4 linked regions of the Homo sapiens genome follow. The protein of the gene in region 3 purifies or fractionates together with the protein of the main gene of each other region. This does not show direct contact. Each region holds a gene or a part of one and is shown on either strand. Other genes may lie near its edges.

Region 1 (7,041 bases), on a different chromosome or scaffold from region 3:
CATGGTGGCTCACGCCTGTAATCCCAGTACTTTGGGAGGCTGAGACGGGTGGATAACTTGAGGTCAGGAGTTCAAAAACCAACCTGGCCAACATGGTGAAACCCCGTCTTTACTAAAAAAATTAGCAGGGCATGGTGGCAGGTGCCTGTAATCTCAGCTACTTGGGAGGTTCAAGCAGGAGGAGAACTGCTTGAACCTGGAAGGCAGAGGTTGCAGTGAGCCAAGATTGTGCCACTGCACTCCAGCCTGGGGCACAGAGCAAGACTCCGTCTCAAAGAAAAAAAAAAGAATAAAAAAGAATGTGCAAGGCGTTTAGTGGGTTATCAACACAAGGGCTTGACTTCTGGCATTTTCCTAAAATGAATACTTGACAATAAAGATCCCAGTTCCTGCATATGGTACCTAGGCACTAGACTCGTGTGGAAAAAGGGAGGTGCCACATATACATTGCTACTCCCTGTACCCTAGCGAAGTCCCAGGTTTGCTTTAGAGGTAAGCAGTACTTGGTCAGGTGCTTTCAGCACCTGAAACTGTGGCTACTCATTTGATTTCCAACTGCGTCAGTCTGGCCCCACCTCTAGGTTCAGCTCAGCCCCAGGCTCTGGCTCTAATCCTGCTGCTGGTTAGAGGAATTTAAGGATTCTGAGGCTGGTCACCGAGGATCCCAATCACAAGCTGGATCCCACTTAAACCTTGTTTTCTGAGACATCCCCAGGACAGGGTTCATGCCTTGATTCTTTGGGATCAAGCTTTTGCCTTGGCTCAAGTTATAAGTGGTGTCTGCCTTATCCTCATGATTCCCGAGGCCCTGCCATTGTTTCTTATCTGGGATCTCACTTCTTCTGTGTTCCTTGGGGACTGGAACCCCATCCCTGTGCAAGTCATCCTTCTAGCTTTACTTTCTGCCATCCAAAAGTGCTGTATGAAGTACACACAGTGACTCATTTTGATTTGGAATTTCAAGGCCATCCTCATTTTAATGACTGAGGATACCACTTGTGTGTTCAAATTAGGTCTGGGGAGGGATTTAGTCCTGGCTAAAGGAGAGCTTTCCTCCTGTCTAATCCAGTTCACTGTGGTGCTTGGCAAACACAGGTGCCCAATCAACAGGCTTCCTTACCAAAGTAAAGTAAGGTCCCCGAACATGAATGACCATGTGATCTAACTTCCTTGTAATCCATGGAGTACAGTTTCATTTTTAAAACAATTCTTTCCAGTTCTCACTGGGACCATGCCACATTTATAAGCTAACTGGAGCCTTCCTTTCCAGTCAAAGGATGGAAGGGAAGAGACATATGTTCAGAGTCAAAGCAACCAAGGCCAACAAGCACCTTCTCTACTGCCATGCTGGTTTATATAACTCTGAAAGTGTACTATGACATCAGAAATTAAAGCTTAAAATGCATCCATGCAGAGAGTTTAACAGATTGTCCATTTTTGCCTTGAGGGCATCTATTATATTTTCTTGCAGGCATGAATTTAGGACACAGCACAACTTTATATTTGAAACTTACTGGCTTTTGGTTTGTTTACAACCTTAACAATATAGTAAAAACATAATCCAGGGAGACATTCTACAAATTACTGAATCCCAAATATCACTGCATTAAGTACACTAATATTGGTAACCAAAGACACTGGGGGGAGGCAGTGAATGTACATAAGTTTTTGGTTTGAAACGTTTCTGCACCATCTTTTCAAATCAAATCCAAAAAATAATATATGCTTGGGAACACCTTGCATATATAAGGTTGCCAGAAACAGTTCAGTCAGCATAGTGCCATGTGGTCTGTCTTACCTTTGAACCCTCTTTAGCACACAACACATTCCACTTTGTAATAAAGCTATTTGTGTATTGGTTTGGTTCGACTACTAGAGGGCAGGGGTTGTGTTTTACTCACACTTTACTTAGCATGGAACTTTGTACACAGAAGATATTAAAAAATATTGTTTCTTAAACTGCCTTATATGGTATGGCTGTGCCTGGTCTAATTCCACAGGCTTCTAAGACAGGAAGTAATGTACTAGTCCTATGGAACTCTTACCTGTTCCACTCTCAGCATATCAATGATCTGGTCAAATAATGGTGTCCTGAGCAGATCCCGGTGGATTAACAAAGTCTCCAAAGCATTACAGGCAGCTGGATATTCACATTTAGAGTCTCTGACTGAAAGAAGATGAGCAAAGAATTGTTTCCATTGACATGATCCAGAGCTGCAGAGGATGTAATATTTCTCCGTTGTGAAAGAGAAGACCCCATCCAGCTCACCTAGCCTGGTGACCTTATCAACACTGGCCTCGGAATCCACATACATGTGACAGATCCCTTCGCTGTGCCCCATCACTGGAATCCCCTTAGCAGCTTTCTGGATGTCTCTGACCAGCTGGGAAGAGCCACGTGGAATGATCAGATCTATCATTTTGTCTAGGCGGCAAAGATCTTCAACTTCTTCTCTGGTATTCACCTTTAGAAGGAAAGAAGAAAAAGATAAAGATGACATCTGACCACACAAAATATAAAAACAGCAGCTTCCCTTTTACAGATAAACATCTGTACACTCTGAGAACTAAGTGAGACACTGTGAAAACTTATTCTAAAAACAAAATTAAGTTCCCGATCATGGGAATCAAAAAGTTGTCCAGCAAATGCTTATCAAACACTATATACTCGGTGCTGTGCTCCACATCACATATCACGCAGGACACTGCATGCCGTCAAAGAGCTCAGCATCAAGTAGGGAAGGCAGCACTAGGGTACTGCTAGCCATAATACAGGGCAGACAATTTTTAAAATGCCAGAAGCAGCACAAAGGGGTATCTATGGAGGTTAAATGCAGTACACTACTCCAGGCCATGAAGATCACAAAAGGGAGTGGCTTCTCTGTTGGTTTTCTATTCACAGCATTGAGGAAATGTTGGGTTGGTCTTGCTAGGGAGTCATGGTTCTCATGACTTCTGATGGCAACTTCTACCCTGGGATGTGGATTAGAATGACTTAAAGAGCCTGTGAGAGGATACTGAGATTATGGGCATTTTGTTTTCTCTTGATTTTTAATTTTTCTCCACATGGTCATATTACTTTTATAACAAATATATATGTGTGCCAGAATGTTCACAGCAACTTTATTCCACATAGCCCAAAACTGGAAACAATCTAAATATTCATCAAGAGAAGAAAAGATGAACTGTAGTATATGCAGGTAAATGGAACACTACCCAGCAATTAAATGAGAAAACTACTGCTAGATGCAACAATGGGAATGAATGCCACAGACATAACGAACAAATGACAGGCAACATAAACGTGTGTTTTGTTTGATCTCATTTATATAAATTTCAAGAATAGGCAAAAGGCAGGGCGTGGTGGCACATTCCCAGCACTTTGGGAGGCTGAGGCAGGCAGATTGCCTGAGCTCAGGAGTTTGAGAGCAGCCTGGGCAACATGGTGAAACCCTGTCTCTACAAAAAACAAAAAATCCACAAAAGTTAGTCAGGTCTGGAGGCACACACCTGTAGTCCCAACTACTAGGAAAGCTGAGGTGGGTGGACTGCTTGAGCCTAGGAGGCTGAGGCTGCAGTGAGCCGAGAGCCAAGATTGTGCCACTGAATTCCAGTCTGGGCAACAGAGCAAGACCATGTCTCAAAAAAAAAAAAAAAGGCAAAAGTAATTTAATGTGACAGAAGTCAAAAAAGTAGTTTGTGGGGAAGGGGGCTACATATTGACTGGGAAGGGCACAAGGGGGCCCTCCAGGATGTTGGACTGTTCTGTATCTTGATACGGCTGGTGGTTATACATGTGTGTGTGTGAACAGTCGCAGAGTGGTTCACAGGATCTGTATACTTTACTGTACGTATGTTACACATCAATAGGAAGAAAAGGAGGGAGGGCACCTGTGTAAGCTAGGAAGTGGTGGGGCTGGGATTTGAATCCCTAAAATCTGCGCTCTTTCCAACCACTATGTGGGCATAAGAAAAAAACCAGATTCTGGTCACTGAGTGTGTAATGAGCAGGTTTGTAGACATCCTCCCAGTAGCCAACAGAATCCTGGAATGTTGGAGCAAATGAGCCAAAGAAAAAAAAGGATCTGGAGTCAGCCTAGGTCCAAATCTAAACTCTATCACACACCATGTGACTCTTGGGGAATTACTTTACCTCTGAATCTGTTTTTTCCCAATGTAGAAAATGAGTCTAATAATTAATGATATTTTCCTTATGGGACTGCTGTGACGATCAAATGAGTTAACGGATAAAATGAGCCTTGCACATAGTAGGTACTCAACAAGTAGTAGCTATTATTATCAAACTTCATTTGACAGTTGAGGAGAATGAGAAATGGTCAGTTAAAGTGATGACCTTAATAATAATAGTGATAACAGCATGATCTCATACTCAACACACCGCATGACAGTTTATGACAAACTTTTGTAAAGTTTCTCATCTGACTTACCCTAGATCACTCTGCCAATGACAGGAACCTAGGCCTCACACTCTAGTTCTGGTACTCCTGCTGCCTTGTGACCCAAAGAATGAAGGTCTAATTGACATTCTTGTAAATAAATAGTGCCAAGACGCAGCTGTAAGGGAGGGGCCTTCCTAAGCCACTGAGGACCCATCTGGCTCTGCAGAATGGCCTAAAGTCTGAAGGCTCACAGGCCTGCTGGAGTGTCAAGTCTGCTTGTAGTAGTGTCTTGGCTCTGTGTGGCCTAAGTTTTGCTTTAAATTCCCAAACACCTGATCTGGCCCCTCTGGGCCTGACTTGGTGCATTCCCAGGGACCTACCAGTTGCACGGCCTCCTTGACTCCATGGATTGAGAGAGCCTCCTGGGTCAGGAGGTGGAGAATCCGGTTGCTGTGTGCAGCCTCCTTCCCTCCTTTGAGTAACAAGCCATTGCCACTTGCGATAGCCAAAGCTGCCACCTGCAGATCAAAGGGAGAGCAGTGGATCAAAGGAGACAAACAGTAATAGCAACAGTGATGTTAGCATTCACAAGCACTCCTTCTGTGCTAAGCACTGTGTTCATCATTTTAGAAGGCCTATGCTGTTTCATCTTCACAACACTGCAGTGAATTAAGTGCCTGTTTTATCCCCTACTTTACAGATAAGGGCACTGAAGCCCAGAGAGGCTGATGACTCCCCGAAGTCACACAGCTTATAAATAACAGGGATGGGAGCCAGACTGAGGTGGTTTGACTCCAGAACAAACCACTGGATTTTAGCAACTAAACTATATGGCTTCCTTAGCACCATTAGCAAAGAGAACTGAGTTGGCCAGGTATGGTGGCTCACGCCTGTAATCTCAGCAATTTGGGAGGCTGAGGTGGGTGGATCACCTGAGGTCAGGAGTTCGATACCAGCCTGACCAACATGGTGAAACCCCATCTCTACTATAAATACAAAAATTAGCCGGGCATGGTGGCAGGTGCCTGTAGTCCCAGCTACCCAGGAGGCTGAGGCAAGAGACTTTCTTGAGCCTGGGAGGCGGAGGCTGCAGTCAGCCGAGATTGCACCACTTCACTCCAGCCTGGGCAACAGAGTGAGACTCCGTCGCAAACAAACAAATAAAGCAAAGAGAACTGAGTTAAGTGGCCAGGGCCACATGGCACCCCCCACCGTGGAGAACAGGGTCTTCAGCCACCTCTGTAAGGAAGCACTTGCTTCATCTGATCAGGCTGAGGCTGGGCAGCTCCTCTGGCCACATCCTACTCTGGCCTTGGAATTGTTCTGAGAGCTCTAAGTGCTTGGTGCTAAGAACCTGGAGAAGACCAGAGCTCCTGCCAGCCCCTGGGCAGCTGTGGTAGAGACTGCTGAGAACAGAGTCTTTTTCCCACATGCCTGTCTGGGGAGGAAAACGTAAACCATCCAGGAGGAGGGCTAGTTGCCTTGTTAGAGCAAAGAGTGAGTGACACTGACCTGATCATCCTACCTCTTACAAAAGTTAAGTAAACTTTCTCCAGACATAAACACACAGAATATTGCACACAATTTTTAGGATTCATGGATTCTGTGAAACCATCCAGGGCTGAGTCCAGATGAGGAGCCTTAGCTGTAGTTAGCTAATGAGGTATCAGCTCCTTGTGAGGTATCAGCTGGTATGGATGAGTGGTAGCAAAGAAATTTCACGGATACAGTCCACAGAGAGACTTAGGCCCATTTCTACTAGCAGAGGTGAGTCTGGCAGTCATCACTGGGGCATTTCTGCAAGACAGGTATGTGGCCAGAGAGGTAGTGTGCCAGCATCAGCCAGGGACTGAGGATAGGCCTCAGTGGTATGGGAGTCCCTTGGTGAACACACTGGTTTTAGGGGATGTCAGAGAGTACCCTTCACAGAGCATTCCAGATTCCACAGTCAACTATGTCTTATAGTAAAGAGGTGCTAGTTTTTTGTTTTTACAGTAGAATTTCCCTTTGAGACTTTGGGGCTAGTGCAAAGGAAGAGCTGGTATCCTATAGGACAGTCCAGTGGGGGAAATGCTCCCAGAATTCTGGGAGGCAGTTTAGGGTAATAAAGTGGGGCCACTCTCTAATGACACCTTGTATTTCCCAGCATGGCTGCTTGGCAAGAACTTTAACGCATGCTTTCTCAACCAGAGGCTGTGATATGTCAACTTGCTTAAAGAGGGTTGCATTCTTTTCTCTTTTTTGAGATGGTATCTCGCCCTGTTGCAAGGCTGGAATGCAGTGGCACGATCTCGACTCACTGCAACCTCTGCCTCCTGGGTTCAAGTGATTCCCCTGTCTCAGCCTCCTGAGTAGCTGGGACTACAGGTCCCACCATGCCAACTAATTTTGTATTTTTTAGTAGAGACAAGGTTTCACCATGTTGGCCAGGATGGTCTCAATCTCTTGACCTCGTGATTCACCTGCCTGGGCCTCCCAAAGTGCTGGGATTACAGGTGTCAGCCACTGTGCCTGGCCGACAGTTGCATTCTAATTTCCATTAACTACTGAAAGTTCTTTTTCCTAACAGATGTACTTATAGGAAGCCATCAGTGATACTGACAATAAAGGGGTCCTTTTCACATGGGCCAAGCCAGTTATT
Region 2 (5,953 bases), on a different chromosome or scaffold from region 3:
CTTATATAGTTTCATTGCATCAATTTCCCAAACAGTACTTTAGGCTTGATACCTACCCAGTACCTGCCAATGTTACAGAATAGTTTTAGTTATTATAATAGTTGTTCTTTTCATCAGTAACAAAAGGATATACAGTTCATCTGTCTGTACTCACATTTTGCTGAAAACAATATAAAAGAGCCTGAAAAGCACATAGTTCCTTTTTTCTTTTGTAATCCTAGCATTAATGTGTGCAGCTGTCCATGTGAAATACCAAAAATTAATTGAACATGAAAAATATTTTTAAACTAAAGATACAAGGAAACAAACACTTATTATATACATTTTTTATGACAGACATTTACACCCAACAGTTTTATGAAGGAGGTCCTATTATTACAGTTTTATAGATGAAGTTACTGTGGCCCAGATAATTTAAGTAACTTGCCCAAAGTTATACGGCTAGTATATAGGAGAATTGGGATTTGTACCCAGGTTTGTTTGATTCCAGTATGCACACCAGTTCTTTCCCCTACACAGTACTGTCTTATTAATTTTACCTTTGGAAAAATACAAAAGGATATATATTCTGTGGAATTATAGCTAAAGAGCATATTAAAAGTAGAACAAAAGAAAACTAATTTGAAGGTGAAAAACCATTCAGTGGAAATAACTAATCACAATGCCTGCTGCCAGTTTGGTAGATTCAGGTATTAAAACATGAAACCCCTGTACACTGGAGTCAACAAGTTCTTTGTGAACAGTTATTGATTTGACTGGGTAGGGGTGGGTAAGGGGGTTTTGAAATCTTTGAGTCAGTTGAATATTGTGAACTCTTCTTTCCCTGAAGAAGCCGAGGCAGTTGTTGAAACCAAAATGGAGAACAAACCCACCTCCTCAGAATTGCAGAAGATGCAAGAGAAACAGAAACTGATCAAAGAGCCAGGCTCGGGAGTGCCTGTTGTTCTCATTACAACCCTTCTGGTTATTCCGGTGGTTGTCCTGCTGGCCATTGCCATATTTATTCGGTGGAAAAAATCAAGGGCCTTTGGAGGCAAGTAAAATGAGCCCCGTGAACTTGGAACCTGCCTTTGAAAGAGTGTTTGGCCTAATTATCCTCAGGAGTTTGATTGGGATTTTTTTCACTGTATTTGTTTTTTTGTTTTTAATGCTCTCTACCATTTTTGACATTATTGTCTATGTTCCAAATATTGCCCCTAGTTAATATCACAGTACAAAATAGTATCTGGAGACTCTGAAATTTGGATAGTTAGATTAAAATATAACCTTTAATACTATCTTTTAGCAATTGGCTTAAGTCCAATTAATGAGTCCATACGAAATTGTAGGTAGTAGAGTCAGTATAAATTAGCTGAAGGATCAGAGGAGGAGATACCTGCTGTTAGGAAGAGGCCCAGTCCTCAAAGTACCTGGGTCAGTTTTTCAGGTTGTGTTTTTCTCCCATTAGGCTCCTAGCTACATGACCATGGGCAAGTTACTTAATCTCTCCAGACCAGTTTTCTCATAAAAAAGTGGGGATAAAATAGTTACCTTACAAGGTTGTACAAAGATGAAATAATGTACATAAGCATTTATCAGGATACCTGGAACCTAGGAAGTACTCAATACCACCAATGGTTATGATGAATAATCATTGGTAATAAAGTAACAAAAGGCATAAGAAGTTATAAAAAACACTTGTCTTAAACCTTAGTTTTCAAGAAAAATTAATTCTATAACAAACCATTTGATAGTTTTTGAATAGTCATAATTTAGCTCATCAGCCTTCCATAACTGAACAAGGCAGAGTCCAATACCAGAGTTAGTATTTTATGAAATCATTATCACAATATAGGATCCAAGAGCTGAGTTTATTTTAGGACATCTAAATAAATAAACAACCCAATTCATGTTTCTTACCGCTCAGTAGCAGTCCCTTGGCTGGGTCCCCAGGTCCTAGAGCAAGTCTATAGCTGTGTGTGGGAAGAAATCCATGGATCAGGGAGAGGGGGAGCATTTGATCAAGAAACAGCATCTGATCCTATTTCAGGTCAAGGCAGCCATGGCAGGGATTCAGTGCCCTTGGCAAAGCCCTGACACAGAAAAAGGCATGGAAACAGAAAACAGAAAATTCAGTTTAATATGTTGTAAAAGGGAATTTTTATTAGACTTTATTTTGCTTTTCATGTGCCATCAATAAATCTCTATAAAAATATAGTTAACTCTTCCCAAAAAGGATTTCTATTAAGTCCATGTTACAGATCTGGAACTGTCATAAGTAGGGGCAAAGAGAAATAAACATAGTCATTGTCTTCATGGTGTTATATAGATGCTTCAAAAGAGCAAGAATCCATATCTTGAGTACTGATATGTCCCCAGCACAAATAATAGTTTCTGATACTAGTGGTTTAATAAATTGTTGTTGAAAGAATGAATGAATAAATCAACCGAGCTCACAGAATAGATAACATATGAAAGAGACATGAAACAAAAAAGTTATAGTAGAGGGTGGTAAGTGCAGTGATAAATACACAGAGTAGTAGGAACAGTGGGGCCTAGGGGAAGGTGGCAGGAATTGTGGTAACCAACCCAATCTGGCAGAAGCAGTGGCTAGGGAATAAGGAAGATTTGGTCTCTCCTGTTTGTTGTTAAGCACATGTGACACAGCACTGTTACATGATGCTGACTTTACAGGAATGTGTTAGGAAGGTAGAGACCCAGGTAGAACCCTAGAAAATTGCCATTATTTGACCGTGTTTTACTTAGAAAAATTGCAGTTTCATATGTAGTAGTAGTAGATCAGCTTCTCACTTTTTTTCTGAATTTGTTCTTGATAGATCTTATCCAGTCTAAGGTTATTAAAAACCCTAATGGACCTTCCATTTATTCATCATTCCTTATTATGTATTGACTCCATATCAGACACTGTGCTAGGCACATGGGGATACAAAACTAAGGAATGTCCTTGCAGAACTTACAATCTAATTTGTTGGCTTTCTAACAGTCTTACCAGATTCTTCTTCCCTTCTTGCCTATTTCTTTCCACATCACTGTCTTCTCCCTTTCCTCTCATCTGCGCTATCTTTTTCCATGATGCTGACTTCAGTCCTGGTTAAAGACCTAACAGGACAACCCCAGGCCTGACTTTCCTGACCATAGCCCTTGAGGGAGTGATGAAGCCTGGGAAATAGTACAGGGAGAGACACAGCAAGGGAAAAAATGAAACCCATTGGGAGTTCTGTCTCCCCATAAGGAAAGAGAGTCTGTCCTTTATGGAGATAGGCAGTCCTGTTGGGAACATTTAGGTCACCTACTATGCTTGGAAAATACTCAGGGTGTCATGTGCTTTCCCTTCACTTATGTCTTACATAAAGAAGAAACGATATACATGGATCCAAAGCTTTCTCAAGCAAGATACGTACTGTCAGTAGAAAGAGTAAAGCTGAAGGCAAATATCCCTAAATTGTCATAACCAAAGATGGAAAAATTTTATAAATTATTAATAACATTTCCTGATTAAAAAAATAGCTATGATTTATTGAGCATTTACTGTATATCTATAGGTAGTGTTCTAAATGTGTCACATGCAGTGTCTGATCTCAGCCTTACAGACAGGGATTCTCCTTGACCTTTCTTTTGTCAGAGGAGAAAACTGAAGCTCAGAGAAGTAATTTATCAAGACTGCACAGCCAGTAAGAGACACGGGCAGGAGTCAAACCCAGCTTGGGCCCTTTATGTATGTCTCAGAAATATACCGCCTTTCTTAAAAATTAGAATTGCATACAGACAAGAGCCAGGCCTTGCTTTATCATTTACCAGTTCCTATTTTAAGTTGGAAGTTGAGTGCATGGGTTGAGAAAGATGACTGGGACTCATTTTGAAATGTGCCATCTTTTTTTAGCAGATTCTGAACACAAACTCGAGACGAGTTCAGGAAGAGTACTGGGAAGATTTAGAGGTATGCCTATGACCTTTTAGAACCCTTCATGTTTGGTTCAAAGTCAACAAGCACATGTCTTTTAAAAAGCAAGGAGATATTTCATATTTTGTCTCTGAAGATAAAGCACCTTGTATGCAGCTTAGCATCTCCCAGAGTAAATACAGAATGCACACCATAAACTAAACTGAAGTGCATGGGTCTGGCAGCAGATTTCCCAGTTTTATTTTTCCCATTCTGCATTATCTAATTCTCTTCCCCTGCCTTTTACCTGGCTTCATTTGTCTTCAGCAAATTTTCTGTCACTCCTGTTGGCATGTCAATGTTTGTCATAGTAAAGATGACCTTTTCTTAAAGTCATTGAAATGAGGAGCTGCTCCAGGGAGGCTAGTTCTGGATAGAGAGCTAGAGAAAAGCAGGAGGTGAAAGTGAATATGAAATATTCCTGCAGAAATACATAATACTTGGGAGCTTTTGTTTTTCTTCTTTAATAGTAGCATCTATATGGCTCTGTAGGATACGTCTCTGTCTGTTTTTCTATTTTATTTTTAAATAAAATAATCTCCCCTTTCCCATCCCCACCTTCTGACTTTATCATTTAAGAATTTACAAGGTAACAGACATTGCTGCAAACTTTACCCAATTCTGTTATTGTTTGCTTTTTTTCAGGAAAGGGAAGTGGAGGCTTAAACCTTGGTAATTTCTTTGCAAGCCGTAAGGGCTACAGTCGAAAAGGGTTTGACCGGCTTAGCACTGAGGGCAGTGACCAAGAGAAAGAGGATGATGGAAGTGAATCAGAAGAGGAGTATTCAGCACCTCTGCCTGCGCTCGCACCTTCCTCCTCCTGAAAACCAAGCTTTGATTTAGATTGAGTAAGATTTACCCAGAATGTCAGATTCCTTTCCCTTTAGCACGTTTAAAGTTCTGTGTATTTAATTGTAAACTGTACTAGTCTGTGTGGGACTGTACACACTTTATTTACTTCGTTTTGGTTAAGTTGGCTTCTGTTTCTAGTTGAGGAGTTTCCTAAAAGTTCATAACAGTGCCATTGTCTTTATATGAACATAGACTAGAGAAACCGTCCTCTTTTTCCATCATAATTCTAATCTAACAATGGAAGATTTGCCCATTTACACTTTTGAGACTTTTTGGTGGATGTAAATAACCCCATTCTTTGCTTGAACACAGTATTTTCCCAATAGCACTTTCATTGCCAGTGTCTTTCTTTGGTGCCTTTCCTGTTCAGCATTCTTAGCCTGTGGCAGTAAAGAGAAACTTTGTGCTACATGACGACAAAGCTGCTAAATCTCCTATTTTTTTAAAATCACTAACATTATATTGCAATGAAGGAAATAAAAAAGTCTCTATTTAAATTCTTTTTTAAATTTTCTTCAGTTGGTGTGTTTTTGGGATGTCTTATTTTTAGATGGTTACACTGTTAGAACACTATTTTCAGAATCTGAATGTAATTTGTGTAATAAAGTGTTTTCAGAGCATTAGCTGTCAGTGTATTTTCCAGTTTTTGCGTATTTGCAGATTTTACATACAACTTTTATAATAATTACACAAACCCACAAATATTAGTGAAACTTACTCGATGTCTTCAACTAAAAGAAATGTGTGTATTGTACAAAATTTAGAAGATACTTTAGCCAATATAAATTAAAAACCAGCCTGAGTTTACATAAATTTGTAAAGTCAGGCTCTTCTAAAATCCAAAGAGGGTTTTTGCCTATATATCAATCAGAGGATAAATACTTTAATAAAAGGTAATCACAGCTAAGTGGATACCTGTGTCTCAAATTACATATGCAAATGATCCATCAGTAGGGATCACTAATAATAGTTTTCCTTTTAAAAAATAATTTCAGGGCAGGTACAGTGGCTCAAGCCTATACTTCCAGGACTTTGGGAGGCCAAGCAGAAGGATTGTGGGAGGCCAAGCAGAAGGATTGTTTGAGCCCAGAAATTCAAGGCTGCAGTGAGCTATGATCAATCCACTGTACTCCAGCCTAGGCTACAGAGTGAGATCCTTTC
Region 3 (6,898 bases):
TAATTATCAATTAATGGCATTTTTCTTTTCTGCATTTAGATTTCAACTAAAAAACAACTAGCCACCATCACCAAAAACAAAAACAGCCAGGAGAACACTAAGGAAAATTATAAGCAGCTACTTTTTTTAAAGTGACAAACTTGAAATTGAGACCTGGCTAGAATTTTGCAATTGCTTCTAGTAAGCACATATACCGTCCCTCTTTGACACTCACTTCCACATCCTCTTCATCTTTCTTTCCACTGTCACCTATCCAAGACTCATCAACCCTCTTGCCTACTGGCCCCTCTGCTTTTTGGAATATCTAAGAATATATGTACACATACACCAATATTTATATTCCTAGGTACCAAAAGAACTGAGGAGCTAAAGGAGACAGCCCATGGTCAAATCTCCAAGGCCACATATTTAACTGGTATGGCTTGGATCAGTGGTCTGTGCCAAGCAGACAGCTGATGCTCAGTAACTGTTAGTTTTTCTCCTCCTTAACTACTCCGCCATGTGATGAAGGAAGAGTTCCTTTTCCTCTGTGCTCGGCTCTCTTTGCGATAACATTCAGAACATACATTCATTTAAAAAAACAAAACGAAAAAAAAACCAAGCGTCTTGCATGTCTAGAGCAGGGGCTGTTTAGCAGTAACTGGAGCCAAGGAAAAGTGGGACTCCTGTATACCATCTGGAGACAAGTTACACTGGAAAACTACAGAGTTCACCTAGATCTCTTCGCACTCTAGTCTTACATTGTCTCCAAATTTAGCTTTCAAGAAAGGTCTCTAATGATGTTTCTAACTTCCATAAGTTACATGAGGGGGGTAAGAATTTAGCAACTAAATGCAAAGAGGCATAGTAGGATTACGTGATTTGGAAGAAAGAATTATCCCTGCCAGACGGGGTGGCTCACACCTGTGATCCCCAGCACTTTGAGAGGCCAAGGTGGTAGGATGGCTTGAGCCCAGCAGTTCGAGACCAGCCTGGGCAACATGGTGAAACCCCATCTCTACAAAAAATACAAAAATTAGCTTGGCATGGTGGTGCAAGACTGTACCAAGCTACTCGGGAGGCTGAGGTGGGAGACTCACCTGAGCCTGGGAGGTGGGGGCTGCAGTGAGCGGTGATCACACCACTCCACTCCAGCCTGGGAAATAGCGCAAGACTCTGCCCCCAAAAACAAACAAAAAAAGGATTATCTCAATTCTCAGGCTTAAAATTTTTCATGGAATCTCAAGCCATCTTCAGTCAAGGCAAGAATTTAGAACTTTTCTACCCTCATCTTCTACCAAAATCTCTTCATATGCCGTGGAAGACTCTAAATCCTGTTTATCCTTATGGTCTAGGTCCCAAGTTCCCAAAAGATATCTAATAACTTACACTATTTTCCACACACAATCCTGGGAAAATGTTCTATTCCTCGGGCAGAGGGAAATCTGGCTGAGATCTCCGATAAGAGTGCTGTTTCCAATGGGAAGCAATGTGAATGGGCAAGGAAGGAAAGCCCCAGATGTGGTCAGAATAAAGCAGACCGGCTGACAACTAAAGCCACGCACAAAGGATATGTCTCCCTGGCCTTCTTCTCCCCCGCTCCTATTTCGTTTAATCCTAACAATTAGGATAACTATCATCACCCTTCTACAGTTGCTGACTCTGGAGCTCAGAGGGGGAAAGATCGTGCTCCACATCACAACACCGGTAAACTCTCAGAACCTGCATCAAACCCAGGTCTTCAAACTCACCCCTCCTGTTTTTCCCAATATGCAGTGCTACCTTTCATGGTCGGCCCATTTCTGGGAACTTCGATACTGTGCTTCTATTGCTCCAGGTTTAAGGAGCATTCTGAGCCTTGACCGGTTCTGAGCTTTGACATCCAACAATCTTATGGCTCTGCTTGGAACATCAGTCATTGACACCTCTAAAAGATTCACTATCCCCTCTGATACTCCATGCCCACCATCCATCCCCAAAACTTCAGAAGAAATGAGGTTAGGAAACCAGGACAGAGCAGAAAGTGCACTGTTCTACAAGGGCTGAAGATGAGTCACAGGTAACCCAGATGAGCAATCAGCCAAGTCTCTTCCACGGCCAATTCATTCAGTCCGCCAGGCACAAGCACTTCTCTCCCGAAGACTCACCTGATAAGAACACCAAAGTTCCAACGTTTCTCGTTGGAAATGAGCACAGAGAGGACACTGCTCACACAAGCAGTGTGGACGCAGCAAGCTCCGCGCCCCGCAACCCTGCACCGAGCACGGTTAACCTCACACTCCCACAGGCGGCAAGAACCGGGACGGCGATGCCCAGTCCAGGCGCTTCCCCTTAGAAGCCCCTTCGCCGCTGGCCCCTATCAGAAAGGAAAGGGGAGGAGGCTGGGGGAGAAACAACTTTATGCTCATTTGCAAGACAGGACCAAAACAAAACCAGCAAACCGAAGCCCTTTAGGAACACCGCCCAGTTCACGGCGCGTGCAAGTTCCGAGGGCAGTTAAGTTTTTGCAACACTTCCCAGCCCTGACCCTGCCCAAGCCGCGGCCGGAGGACTGAGGAAGTGGACGGTCCCGAGCGGGAGGCCCGCGGCAGGAAGTGGAAGCAGAGCCATCTGCGGGATAGGGAAGGAACCGCGGCTACAAGGGAGAGGCGGAGGCCGCCCCCACTTCCTCAGCCCCAGGCAGCCCAGGAAGCCGAGACTCCCCCAGGGAGTCCTCCCGGAGCGGAGCGGGGCCGCTGCCGGGGCGTCGCCCTCCGCCGGCCTCGGGGCGCGACATGTCCTGCCGCCGCCCGGCCACAGCCCGGCACGGAGGGAGCAAGAGGCTGCGGGCGTGCGGCGTACCCCACTCCCCAGCCCGCGCCCCACCCCGCCCGGGGCCCGCGGGCGCCGCGCCCTTACCAGGGACCAGTCCCGCCGCCTCCGCCGTCCGCACCCGGCCCGCAGCTCTTAAACGCGCCCCGCCCCCTCCCGGGGCCGGACCCCAGCCGTCCTCCACCGATTTGTCATTGAGCTGCCGGGCTCGCTTTCCCACCCCCCGAGCGCGCCTCCGGCGTCGCCTAGGCAACCCCTCCTCTCGAGAGCGCGCCCTCGCTTCCGTTCTTGCCCTCTCCTCGGAAGCCACGCCCGTCGGGGGGCTGTCAGCCAATCCGAGGCTGATTTTCCAAGCAGCGGGCGGCCGGGGAGGAGGTTTCACCAATGAGAAGCTGCCCCAGGCACGGGGGGGCGGGCCCAGCGCGCCTGCCCCGTCCCCCTCTGTTTCTCTCTCTGCCCCTCGGACACGCAGCTGGTAACCCTGCGGCAGTGGAGGAGCTGCCCGCCGGTATTGAGGGCGGGTGCGGGTGCACAAGGTGGGGCGCCAGTTGTGGGATTCAGGCCAGGGCTAGGACGAAGTAATGGAAAGCAAAAGCGAAGGACAGACCTGATCATACAGAAACAGAAGAAAATTACGAGGTGGCGAAGAGTGCTGGAGCGCGGCGATGGGGATGCCGCCCGGGGGTCTTGGGGCGGGACTCCACCTGCCGCCACCACTCGCTTCGCTGATGACATCCCATTAGCAGTAATGGAGTTAGTGAGTGCATGGCGGAGACTGGACCCAGGCCGCCTACAAGGGCCAGAATCCCACCCCAGCCATAGCCTCGAGGCAGGAAGTGCAGTGGGCAAGCTCCCTGCCAAAGCCCAGGAACGTGTGATTTTGTATCCAGTACAGCTTCATCTCGGTGGATTTTCCTTCCTAACCACCTCCTCCTCCACAGGTTTTGTGACCGTGCTGACCCCTACGCAGACCTCATGAGAGTCACAAGCCATCGCAACTGACAGTTTAAACGTCTGCCTCTTATCTCTAAGGGAGGGAACTATCTCTTATGCAATGTGATATCCATGGCTGCTAGCACAGTGTAATTAATTCTTTCATTGTTGATCATTGTAAGTTAGGATGCATGTGTATACTATATTGGAGGCTTTGGGCCATGATTAGATTGCTATGTATCTACCAGATCCAGTCCCTCCATCAGCATCTATATCAAAAAGCACAGAAGCTTTACCTTAGTCTTAAGTGACCAACTTAACAAAAAAGTGCAATCAGAAGAATATCCTAGTGTTAGCCTACTAAGTATTCTGTTTTTACCATTCTCATTCACATTTAAAACTTTTATTGAGTGCTAATCGTATGACAGACACTTTGCTAGGTACAGTAAGGAGATGGGGTAGGAGGCTTCTCAAAGAGGAAGCTCCCTAGTATTTATAACCTAGAAGAGGAATCAGACCCAAACCTTTTCTTACGGAGTAACAGTTAAGTGCACAGGTTTGGAGTCTGGAAGCATAGGATTAAAGGAGGGCTCTACCTTGTGACTAGCAGTTACTTAATTAGGAAACTACTTCTGTGGGCTTTAGTTTCACCAGCTGCCCAATAGCAGCACCTCCATGCTATAGGTAAGAAGATGTACATGCAAGTCCACATAGAGCTCTCAGTACAGTGCTAGGAACTTGGTGAGTGCCTCAGGAATGTGAGCTTACATTAGTGATTGCCACCAGAGGCCACGATGTACAGTCAAGTGTGTGATCACCAATCTGGTACAGCCTTATCTCCCAAAGCCCATCTGTATCAAGTGTGACCGCGTGCAGCCTGGTGGAAAGGGCCTGCTGTGGTGGTACCCTTTGTCAAATGCAAGTATAGAGAGGAGAGCAGCTGCAGCAGCCTACCCAAGTGAAAAGGGTATGATAGTTGAGGGAACAGGGTCAGAAATCAGGCCACAGGCCAGGATTCTACTGTTCCCACCTGCCCCCCATCCCCTAGGACCCACAGCAGATGCAGGAGGTTTCCCCACCTTTTCTGGGGTGCTGAAGTGCCATTCCTTTGCATTGGTAACAGGATGCACAGGGCTTTCTGAGAAATGCTGCTTTCATTCTCTGCCTGCCTAGAACTCGGAGGGGTCCTACTGGGACTCCTCCAGCAGGATCATCTATTCAGATCCTGGACATGCCAGACCCTGAGCTGTGCAGTATATTCAGAGAGGAGTGGCAGGACCCTTTTGGCGGGGCTGTCTCACACAGGACACCAATAGGGGAAACGTGTCCCAACGGGAGAAGGGAACCAAGAGGCCACCAGCCTCAGCTGCCTCTAAGGTGGCTCATTCCAGGTCTCAGGGGACCTCTTGTCTGCTGAGTTTCCCTACCAGAACTCTGACTCCCAGCAGAGCCAGGGGCTTGAGCAGCAGAAATACAAGATCCCCAGCAGGACTCCTTAAGGATGCTGTAAACGACTGCTGCCATGGAAAGAGCATTCTAGACACTCCATCCTTCTAAAGTATTTATTGATTACTGTGGGAGTCTTTAGTGCTGTCTGACAAACATTTCTACTCCTCTCTTGTGAGCACTGGAAACTTCCTAGCCCTGTAGTTGGGTGGAGCCATGTGACTAGCTCTAACCGATCACTTGTGAGCAGAAATGACACATAATCATTTCTAGGCTGGAGAAATTAATTGCCAATATAAGACCCTCCAGAGCTCTCTTGTCCTTGGTATGGCTACTGAGAATGTTAGGAAATGTGACTGCTCCATCAGCCAGGGTTTCTACAATGAGCACAGGCCCCCTACCAACCTGTGATGGACATTTAGAATGACTGAGAAATAAGCCCTTATGGTTTGAAGACACTACGATGTGGGAGTTGTTTGTTACTGCACATAGCTTAGCCTGCTCTGACGGATGCAAGGTGAACAACTCACACAAAAGGACAGAGAAGAGGCCAGTAAACAGACAAGCACCCCAAAAATTACAAATTATGTCATTACAAATTATTTTAGACTGGGTGGTCAAAAAAGATCTCTCTTGGGAAGTGACATTTAAGCTAGGACCTCAAGGATGAGAAAAATCAATCTTAGCAAAAGATGGGGGTAGGAGGAAGGACAGGAGAGTATTTCAGGCAGAGGCATAAGCCTGTGCAAAGTCCTGAGGCAGAAGAAAGCTTGGTACTGCTGAGAATGGCCAGGAGGCCTGGAATGGTGAGCAGGGGAAAGTGAGTCACACAGGGCTGGAAGGGGAGGCAAGAGCCAGATGATGCAGGGGCTTCTCGGTTATACAGAGGAGTTTGAAATTTACTCCTAGTGCGGTAGAAACTGCTGAAGAGGTTTGATATGGTTTGGATGTGTGTCCCCTCCAAATCTCATGTTGAAATGTAATCCCCACTGTTGGAGGCGGGGCCTGGTGGGGGGCTGTTTTGATCATAGGGACAGATCCCTCATGAATGGCTTAGTGCTACTCCTTGGCAATGAGTGAGTTCTTGCTCTGAGTTCACACAAGGTCTGGTTGTTTAAGAGTGCGTGGCACCTCCCCGCCTATTCTTATCCCCGCTCTCAGTATGAGATGCACCTGCTCCCACTATGCCTTCCGCCATGACTGGAAGCTTCCTGAAGCCTCCCCAGGAACAGATGCCAGTGCTATGCCTCCTGTACAGCCTACAGAAACATGAGCTAATTAATAATTAAGCCTCTTTTCTTTATCAATTACCCAGTCTCAGGTATTTCTTTATAGCAACACAAAATGGACTAACACGGACGGGCGCGGTGGCTCACGCCTGTAATTCCAGCACTTTAGGAGGTGAAGGTGGGTGGATCATGAGGTCAGGAGTTTGAGACCAGCCTGGCCAACATGGTGAAACCCCATCTCTACTAAAAATACAAAAAAATTAGCCAGGCGTGGTGGCAGATGCCTGTAATCCCAGCTACTCGGGAGGCTGAGAAGAGAGTTGCTTGAACCCAGGAGGCAGAAGTTGCAGTGAGCCAAGATCATGCCACTGCACTCCAGCCTGGGCAACAGAGCAAGACTCCGTCTTAAAAAAAAAAAAAAAAAAGACTAACACAAGGTTCAAACAGGAGGCTGACATGCTTTGATTTTGGTTTTAAAAAGATTACTCTGGGTCAGGCAT
Region 4 (3,514 bases), on a different chromosome or scaffold from region 3:
GGTGGAGGGAGAAAGGGTTTGAGATTTGTGGTGCCTAAGAAGAGAAGCAGGTGGGGCTCTTCTGCGGTAAAGAGAAGTTCTCCCAGAAAGCATGCTAACATGAGGAAGGAAAGAAATCCCATGAGATGGCAAAACTCCTCCCAGTAACAATTGAGAACTGCCTCTTATTATTGGAAAGGGGCCACAGAACCAGTATTGAGCACATACCCTGTACTGTCTCTAATGGTTCTTTAAAAAGTTATTTTTACCTAGTTTTTTCAATTGTTTTCAGTGGGTGTGCAAACATTGGCTACTGTGACCAGAAACAGGAAAACTGCTTGACTTTTTGAAGTACCATCCTACTGTTTGTATTATTTTTAATGTAATCACATAGAAACAGTAATGATTTTACTGAGAACATCTTCTAGAGCTTACTTGGGTCCACTTGTCACCACAGAAATGCAGAATGAACCAGACAGGAAACAGGAGCTAACATGGCAGCTTTGTATAACTGCCTCCAGTTACAGGAGTCACAAATGAATAGGCATGGCTCTGTTCCAATAAAACTTTATTTACAAAAACAGGCAGCAGTCCAGTTTGGGTTAAAGGGCCAAACGTTACTGATTCCTGCTGTAGGTAGTACTTACCTGAAATAGCAAAACCTGGGTTGTAAAGCAAGGTCTGTAATTAATTTCCAACAGTTGATCAGCCGTATAACCTTGGGAAGTCATCCTACCTTTACTGAGCTTCTCCATTCTCTTACTGGACTAAACCTATACAAATGGGGACCTGTATGTGTGTGCAGGTGAAAGTCCATGAGTGTGTGAGAGAGAACATGCATGTAGCTTTCATGGATAGACTTTGGACCCTAGCTAGCCCAGAAGGTGTGACCAATATGCTTATACATGTATTTATGTTTCTCATAAACGCTCTAACACTTCATGAGATACAGCAGAAACAGTTGGGAGTGACTAAGGATTACTGGTAGTAATTTTAAGCAGCAGTAAATCTTAAGAGAACAAGATAAAAAAATCATACATACACACAATTTGCCATTAGATAAGGGACTGTAAACTTTTCAATACTACTTTTGTCTGTTTATTTGGTGGAGGAATGACGAGAGATGCACGTGCAGTAGCCAAAGATAAAAATAATAAAAAGTTAGATATGCACAAAAGTTAATCATACAAGAACTGGAAATACATTCAAATAATTGTAAGCCTATAAGAAACACTGTAAAATAGATTATCTTATGTTTAACTTTTTTTGTCTATGTATTTAATGTATTATTTCTGTTATAACCCCAAATTTTATTTATGAAAAATTAAGACCAACTTTAAGAAGCTTCAATATTCACTTTTATTATTTATAAAAAAAAATTAAGGTACCAGAGTGCATATGGTGTACTGTGATCTTGGTTTTGCAAATTTATTCATGTGTTTTACATTATTTCAATTTTAATAAACATATCATATGTGTATCTTTACAATACCTGATAAAGATTCAGCTGTCTGGCACTTACACATGTATTCATAGAGTTCATTCTGATGCTCTGAACCTCAAGAGGATGTGAAAATGACTTGCCTGTAATTACCCCAAGATGAAGATTTATTGAAGCAGTTATGCTCCAGCAACTGCCACTCATTTGTGCTGGTTCTACTTTTTCCCCTTAATTGAATGTAAACATTTGCCAAAAAAAAAAAAAAAAAAAAAAAATTCTGGAAATGAAGTTCTGTTAGTTTTTAGTCCAATAAATAATTTTAGCTACGCTTAATGTAGCTTTTTTAAGGCCTTCATACAATTGAAAAAAATTAAAGTTGAGCACGTTAAAACCCTGTTCATTTATAAAATAAAAAATAGTACTTTATAGGTTTGCAGTTAAAAGTTACCTTCCAAAACCTATCATGCATGTCATAAGCTGCAACCCAACTCGAAGTCCTAGGTGCTGGCAGGCAGGGCACATCCCCGTGCCAGCAATGTGAGGCATTAAGAAAACACCATGATGTCAGAGGTCTAGATTTACATGTATTAAGCCACACGTCAGTGAATTCTCTGATAAATACATGTCATTTTAATAATCAGTACTGGATAGTGGATGAAAACATGCATTAGACTAAAAATGCCACAAATTTGTTTTTATACCCATTCACTATAAAACTTCCTTTTTTAAAATTTAAAGTCTTGTTTCCTATTTTAGAATACGCAATAATCGGGAGGATACATGATGGGGAGCCAGTTTTCAGTAAAAGATGCACAATGGGTCCATCCAAGTAACTTCATCAGCTACAACAAAATACAATAATATATTATTATAAAGGAAGTGACAGATTTTTAAGCTCAGTATTTAGAATAAATTCTGTATTAAATAGTAACAGTAAGGTAGTAGCATATAGAACCTTCCTTCCACCAACCGTCACCCACCCATTGATCCTCCTTCCCACCAACCAACTTTTCTTACTATCAACCAACTTTCCTACCAACCAACCTATTGTTCTCATCATTATCCCTACCAACTGTCCTTTTCCCTCTTTCCTATTAACCTGTGTTCCTCCCTTCTTCCTTCCAACTTACTTGTTCCTTTCCTTCCTACCAACCTAAGTTCCTTTCATTCATTTTTTCTGAGTAACTATCATGTCAAACACTGGGAAAACAGCACTGAACAAATTCACCTCCCACTTTCAGGAAAAGCAAATAATAAGCAAATTAATAAATGAATAAACAAGTAATAAGATATTTATCAGGTGTACAGTAGAAATAATATTTGACACAATATAAACTAACTGGGGAGTTAGATGGTTAAGAAAGGATCTCTATGGAGGTGATACTCCAGTTGAGTTTGAATGACAAGAAATCTGTGCGAAAATCTGGGAAAGACATTCCATCCAGCCAGAGTAGTTAGTGCTAAGGTCCTTTGGTAGGAAAAGGTGTGGCTGTTTGTGCTAAGCAGAGATGCTGGTGTGGCAGAAGCAGAGTTTGTATGGGCAAGTGTGATATGAAATAAGTCTGGAGAGGTAGGCAGGGGCCTTATGGACCACTGGGGAGAGTTTGGATTTTATTCCAAATGTGATGGAGATTCAACAGCAGGTGTCAAAAGGCATCTTTTCCAGCTGCTGTGTGGAGAACAGGCAGCGGGGGGGGCAGAGTGGAGGGCAGACAAGTTAAGAAACACTCCCTGATGTGAACGTCGGCAGGGATCACTGGCTTTACAAACCTAAGTGCTCACGGATCAGATTCCACATGATGAGAACCACATTAGACATATCAACACCTGGCTCCAGAAAGAGTTCTCTTAATCTAGTCAAAGATCTGGAGGAGCTAATTTAAAATGTCTTACAATTTGGACTGACTGGTGAAGGTAAACAAAAAGCTCTAAGAGTAAATATGAATATAGCTTACTCTAATTATCAAACATTTTCAGAGGAACCTACTGATCAGTTTTACATCCAAAGGGTACCTTACATATAAAGTATAATTAACCTGGACTTGCCCTTTAGCTGAATCTGGCACCACCAAACTCCCCTGCCTTCACGTATCC

The links.
Region 1: the proteins of RALB (region 3) and ALDH18A1 purify together in Homo sapiens (affinity purification with mass spectrometry; 2 studies listed by BioGRID and IntAct, with this or other methods). This does not show direct contact.
Region 2: the proteins of RALB (region 3) and PAM purify together in Homo sapiens (affinity purification with mass spectrometry; 2 studies listed by BioGRID and IntAct, with this or other methods). This does not show direct contact.
Region 4: the proteins of RALB (region 3) and TPP2 purify together in Homo sapiens (affinity purification with mass spectrometry; 2 studies listed by BioGRID and IntAct, with this or other methods). This does not show direct contact.

Annotation. Positions count from the first base shown.
Region 1 is NC_000010.11:95,611,697-95,618,737, forward strand, and holds part of ALDH18A1 (delta-1-pyrroline-5-carboxylate synthase), read right to left. Parts: intron 4,919-7,041; coding exon 4,781-4,918; intron 2,466-4,780; coding exon 2,270-2,465; intron 2,168-2,269; coding exon 2,046-2,167; intron 1-2,045. UniProt on the Homo sapiens protein: Bifunctional enzyme that converts glutamate to glutamate 5-semialdehyde, an intermediate in the biosynthesis of proline, ornithine and arginine.
Region 2 is NC_000005.10:103,024,302-103,030,254, forward strand, and holds the end of PAM (peptidyl-glycine alpha-amidating monooxygenase isoform e preproprotein), read left to right. Parts: intron 1-829; coding exon 830-1,033; intron 1,034-3,880; coding exon of another isoform or gene 3,881-3,883; coding exon 3,884-3,937; intron 3,938-4,585; coding exon 4,586-4,764; 3' UTR 4,765-5,415; downstream 5,416-5,953. UniProt on the Homo sapiens protein: Bifunctional enzyme that catalyzes amidation of the C-terminus of proteins. Alpha-amidation is present at the C-terminus of many endocrine hormones and neuropeptides and is required for their activity.
Region 3 is NC_000002.12:120,248,960-120,255,857, reverse strand, and holds the start of RALB (ras-related protein Ral-B), read right to left. Parts: upstream 3,007-6,898; 5' UTR 2,878-3,006; intron 2,801-2,877; exon of another isoform or gene 2,127-2,800; intron 1-2,126. UniProt on the Homo sapiens protein: Multifunctional GTPase involved in a variety of cellular processes including gene expression, cell migration, cell proliferation, oncogenic transformation and membrane trafficking.
Region 4 is NC_000013.11:102,676,975-102,680,488, reverse strand, and holds the end of TPP2 (tripeptidyl-peptidase 2), read right to left. Parts: intron 2,263-3,514; coding exon 2,173-2,262; 3' UTR 531-2,172; downstream 1-530. UniProt on the Homo sapiens protein: Cytosolic tripeptidyl-peptidase that releases N-terminal tripeptides from polypeptides and is a component of the proteolytic cascade acting downstream of the 26S proteasome in the ubiquitin-proteasome pathway.